Regions from separate parts of the Homo sapiens genome. Here region 2 is linked to region 1. A link means that fine-mapping ties the variant in region 1 to the expression of a gene that starts in the linked region. Tissue or cell type: esophagus muscle. Region 1 holds a variant in brackets; the other region holds the start of a gene. All regions are shown on one strand. Distances are between the middles of the regions.

Evidence for each region. PIP is the estimated chance that this variant, and not a neighbour inherited with it, causes the effect.
Region 2: HHIPL1 starts here. The variant in region 1 is fine-mapped to the expression of HHIPL1 in esophagus muscle (GTEx, PIP 0.96).

The regions. Positions count from the first base shown.
Region 1 is chr14:99,715,099-99,717,848 of GRCh38, forward strand. CYP46A1 (cytochrome P450 family 46 subfamily A member 1) reads left to right here. Exons shown (of 15, transcript NM_006668.2): 8 at 712-862; 9 at 1,039-1,101. Among named protein-coding and RNA genes, the nearest start is that of CYP46A1, 32 kb to the left of the region's middle. The variant G/A (reference allele first, on the strand shown) is at 1,642.
Region 2 is chr14:99,643,787-99,646,410 of GRCh38, forward strand. HHIPL1 (HHIP like 1) reads left to right here and starts at 1,343. Exons shown (of 9, transcript NM_001127258.3): 1 at 1,343-1,676. The coding sequence starts at 1,422.

The DNA of each region.
Region 1 (2,750 bases):
ATAGCTAACAGCAAGGTATTGTATATTTCAAAAACAGGGAGATTTGAAATGTTTCCAACACAAATGATAAATGTTTGAGGTGATGAATATCCTAAATATGCTGATTTGACCATTGCACATTGTATTCATGTATCAAAATATCACATGTACCCCATATGTGTGTATAATTATTATGTATCAATTAAAATATATAGATTTTTAAAAAGATGGCTGCTGCAGCTCCACATATCACCTCCTTATTCCAGTCATGAAGAAGGAAGAAAGGGGAAAGGTGATAGCTGAGTTCATCTCAGGGCCCCCTCCCGTTCCCTGGGACTTCGGCCCCTGAGCTTGCAGCCGCCAATGCCGCCCCGTCTTTTTGGCAGTTGATCGCACTCTACTTCCCACTGCTTGGGATTTCTTCCTTCGATGCAAGCCTAGCTGCCTCCACTCATCAGGGGTCCCTTTTTACCTTGCAGGGCCACGTGGATGTTTTAAGCCATCCCGCCCACCACTGCTAAGGATTTGGTGCAGGAAAGGGAGGCTGAGGCCTGGGCTCAGTCTGCCATCTTGATCCAGTCTCCCTGGCTGCTTCATCTTTTCTAGAATTTCTCACATTCTACTGACCTCCCAGCTTGCCAGTGCCGCTAACGTCATTTCGGGGTGGTGGGGGAGAGGGGAGAGGGAACATGCGTGTTCACTTGGCCATCTGGAGCTGAAACTCTTGTTTAGTTCCTGCCAGGGAAGAGGAAGCAGCTCCGGGAGGTCCGGGAGAGCATTCGCTTCCTGCGCCAGGTGGGCAGGGACTGGGTCCAGCGCCGCCGGGAAGCCCTGAAGAGGGGCGAGGAGGTTCCTGCCGACATCCTCACACAGATTCTGAAAGGTGCAAGGGCCCCCTCTGCGGACTGGGGAGGGCGGGGTGGGCCAGGACGTTCCCCAGGTGATACATCGCCACTGACTCTGTTTGGCTTAAGAGGAGAAACACAGTTAGTTATTTTATGAGCCATGGGGAAAGGGAGCAAAGATTTGCTGGGAACTGAGACTCTCCTTGTTTTTCAGCTGAAGAGGGAGCCCAGGACGACGAGGGTCTGCTGGACAACTTCGTCACCTTCTTCATTGCTGGTTTGTAGCTTTGGCGGTGGCCAAGGGCCCGGAGCTCTGCAGAAATGCTGTGGACCATGGATCCCTCAAACCCAACTCTTTGGGATTTTTTGGGCTATCTGAGCAGAGCTCACCGCAGGGCTAGGGGGCTGGGCTGAAGGGAGCAGAAGCCCCATCTCCTAGCTGTCTTGGGGGCCTCTGACCTGGTAATGCAGCTGGCAATTGTGGGGATGTGTGAAGCTGGCCTGTCAGCTCCAGAGAGCTTGGCTGTGTGAATGCAGGCATCCCCTCACTCAGAATTTGTGGGGAGGCCTGCATTAGACTGGCACAAGAAGAGATGCTAAGCAGCTTCATTCATTTGCTCATCAGATATTTCCTGAACATGGTTCTTCACCTAGAAGACTCCTCTTCAGCCGTCAGTGAGCCCTCGCATGCCTCCTCCCCAGGGAAGCACAGGCTGCCTCAGGCACTCAGCTAGAAGCTGACCACAGGCCTGGGGCTCCTCCCCACCACCCATCTCATTGTGTTAAGCTGTTTATTTATTTGTGGTAATTGAGTGAC[G/A]TCTGTTCCCCACCAGACTTGATGAGCGAAGGGTCAGGTTGTTTTGCTCACCTCTGTTCTCCTGGGGCCCAGTGTGGTAGGGAATCCCATGAACATTGAATGAAATACACGAACAAATGATTGACACTGGGCACTGGGAAGATGGAGGTGAACAAGATGAGGGACAGTTTCTAGCCTATTGGTGGAGGTGGAAAGACAGAGAGACAAATACTGATGGACGAAGAGGTCTGCAGGTGAAAGGCATGGAGGAAGGCCCTTTAGGTGGGAGAAGCACTTGCAGATGCCCCAGGAGATTAGAAGCGGCCAGTGTTAAAGCAAGGCTGCAGGGCGCCATTCCCTGCAATGGATAGAAAGGACTTGCGGAACCAATGGCTGGTCCTCATTCCTGCAGCTGGGAACCCAGGTCCTGGATGAGGCTTCTGGACAGACCTAGCCTCAGTCTCCTCATCTGTAAAATGGGGGCCTTGAGGAGCTCTCCAGGCTTCTATCCAGCCTTCCAGAGAGGGTTTATTAATCCCGTCTCGTCCCTCCAGTCTATCCCTGAGCCCTGCGTCCAGATGCTATGGGGGACTGGCCGAGGGCACGGTGGGTTGTGTCTGTCTTTCCCTTTGCCTGTGAGGAAACTGAGGCCGAGGAGGGAAGTGGCCTCCTATAGTCACAGCCCGCGATGCAGAGCTGGGGCCAGGGCTGCTGTGTTCTCCCACCCTGCTCCCAGGCTGAGGGCTCCGCTGGCTGTGTGAATGGCCCACCTCCACACCCTAGGAGCTGGGCCCTGCTTCCCAGCTCTGACTTGCTGTAAGTTATAGGCCCTTCTCCTGCATTCAAGCAGGCCCCTCAAGCCCCCTGGCTCCTTTAGAGTAAACTCACGTCTGTTCCCTCCCAGGCCAGCTTGGAGGGGTTGACTCTATCACCTTGGCCAGACCCTGCCAGAACTCAAAATCAGCCTCCCGAAATGTCCACCACCCCCTCATAGAACCTCAGGGTCATGGGGGGCTTTTGTGTGCACCCTGCATCCTGGGAAGGCGAGGCCTTGGGCTCACGGACTTTGAATTGTGTCCCCCCCACTCTCCCTGCTGTGTGACCACAGAGACCCATTCCTCTCCACCTCC
Region 2 (2,624 bases), 71 kb before region 1:
TATTTCTCCTCCTCTGTCTGTGCAGAATCTCTGACAGTGGCTATCTCCAGCTGTGGCCAGACAGGCCTTGTGAGGGTCCAGCTTTGACAAGGTGACCATAGCTCCTTGGCTCCAGTAACATCTGCTCTTCCTGCATCAAGGACCTGGGGACTGTTCCTACTGTTGCTGATCTCAAGGTTACTTCACTGAGCCCTGTATGGCTTCTTAGCCTCTTTGGCTTCAAGTCCCTGCGTTAAATTCCCCGTGTTTCAAATACTCAGAGATGTTTGGCTGTGCGGAGACCCTGACTCTTACACTGCACCTGTTCAGGCCAGAGCCACAGACCTCTGAGTGCTCCAGCCCTGCCGCATCTCATCCACCCCCAGCTCTGCCAGGAGCATGGGCCCAAAGACAGAAACATGATCCCCCAGGACAGTCCAAAGAGACCTGCAGAGGACGGATGTGTGCGTTGGGGCCATGAAGATGGAGTAGGAGCTCACTGGACAGAGAAGATGGGGAAGGACACTCCAGGGAGAAGCAAACGCTGAGGTCCACTTGAGAAAAATGCCTGGGTGGTTTTGGTGCTGTGAGATTCTAGGGTAGGTGAGACAGTGTGTGTGTGTTTGTCTGTGTGGGTGGTTTTGGTGCCATGAGATTCTGGGGTAGGTAAGACAGCGTGTGTGCGTCTGTATGTGTGTGGGGGGGTGGGGCGGGGTTGGGTCTGAATCTCCAGCGGGGGCAGCGGAACAAAGGGCTGGATGCCCATCCCAGGAGGTAGATTCATCAGTGCTCCCTATGCGAGAGTGGAAGTGGGGAGCCCCAGTGGGTCCTGGGCTGCAGGAGAATCCGCTGCCCCAGGAGCAGAGACTGGGAAGAAGCCCACAGTAAGGGCAAAGGGTGGACTGCGGAGACTGCTCCGTCCTCCCTCCCCACCCCTACGCCAGGTTTCACTTCTCCCTGAGAGTCCTGGGGCAACACCCCCTGTTCTTTCCCTCGCACCCCCATTTTTAAAATGTTACGTGGGAGCTTTCGGGGACGGGCTGCGGGCATCCGTTTCCCTAGCCCAGTGGGAGGTGGAACCGAAGCCCAGGAGTCCAGGCCTCTGGCCCTGCGCCTCCCTGGCTAAAGAGCGCCCTGTGGGGAGGAAGCAGGGCCCCAGGCGGAACCGGGAAAACACACCGGGGCTTTAAACAGACCGGGCCACTCCCATCGAATTTGGAAAGCGGTTAAAAGAGGTCGTGCCGCATTCTGCGCCGCGTCCCTCTTCCTTCAGTCCCGCCGAGTGTCCCCGACCAGAGGTGACCTCCTAGAAGGGGAGGTCCCCAAACTCGAGGCCCTGCGTGTAGGGAAGGGGAGCGCCCGCCCCTTCCCTGCCGCCGCGAGCGCCCCGGGAGGGGACCGGGGCTGCCGTCCCTCCGCCTCTTCCCCCGCGGGGCGTAGCGATGGCCCGGGCCAGGGCCGGGGCGCTGCTGGCGCTTTGGGTGCTCGGGGCCGCCGCGCATCCGCAGTGCCTGGACTTCAGGCCGCCCTTCCGGCCGACGCAGCCGCTGCGCCTCTGCGCGCAGTACTCGGACTTCGGCTGCTGCGATGAGGGGCGCGACGCCGAGCTGACCCGCCGCTTCTGGGCCCTGGCGAGCCGCGTGGACGCCGCCGAGTGGGCCGCGTGCGCCGGCTACGCGAGGGACCTGCTGTGCCAGGTGAGCGGGCGCGCGGCCACCGGGCGGGGCGGGGCGCGGGAGGCCGAGTCCTGGAGCAGAGATCGGAACCCCGCGGGGGCGAGGGCCAAGAGTGGGCGGCGGACTCGGGAACTCTAAGCCCCAACAGGGAGTCATTTGGCACGGGGCGGGGAGACCGCGCATCCCAGGACGACTCTTGGCTTTGCCATTCATTAGTTTTGTGACTTGGGCCTTCTCGGGGCCTCAGTTTCCCCTCCTGAAGCAGGAAGGACGGACGGACGGACAGATGATGTCATCATTTCCTCAGAGGTTGGGGGCTCTTCTGCCCCAGTCCCCTGGAGTCGACCCCTCAGCGTCCCACCCCGAGCAGCTGCACCCTTGTCGGGGTACCAAGGTGGAGAGGCATCTGTCCCGGTCAGTGCTCCTTTGTGTTGTCCCCGGGGCAGTGAAAGCAGGGGGCCCTGGCGTGGGCGTGGTCAACGTGTGGCCCGGGTTTGTTGAGGGGGTTGGGGCCACTGTCCCCCACGAGCGTCTCACCCCCATCCTGATGCCCTTGCCACTTCCGCCACCACCTCTGTGGGTGCTGTGCCCTCTCCTGGGGATGGCGCCCTGGCCTGCAGAAGCTCTCTCAAGACTGAGCGACAGCTCTTTGTTGAAGCCCCTGGGCCCCCCATCTTCCCTCTGAGGGTGGAGCCCCTGCTTCTGTGCACACCTGGTGGTGCCACCGCTATTTGTTTTCCTCTTGTGGGAGTCTGAGGCCCCAGGGCCTGACCACACCCAAGTGGGCAAATGTTGCCTGGCTGAATGCAGAAATGGAGCAGGACGGGCAGCCCCAAGGCATTCCTGCCTCAGCATCTGGGCAGTGAGAGGCCTGGGGTGGAGAGGCCCCAGGGGCCAGGGCCGTGTCCCAGCCTTCGGCCAGCAGGGGCAGGTGGTGTGGGGAAGGGCAAGAAGGCTGACTTGGAGTTG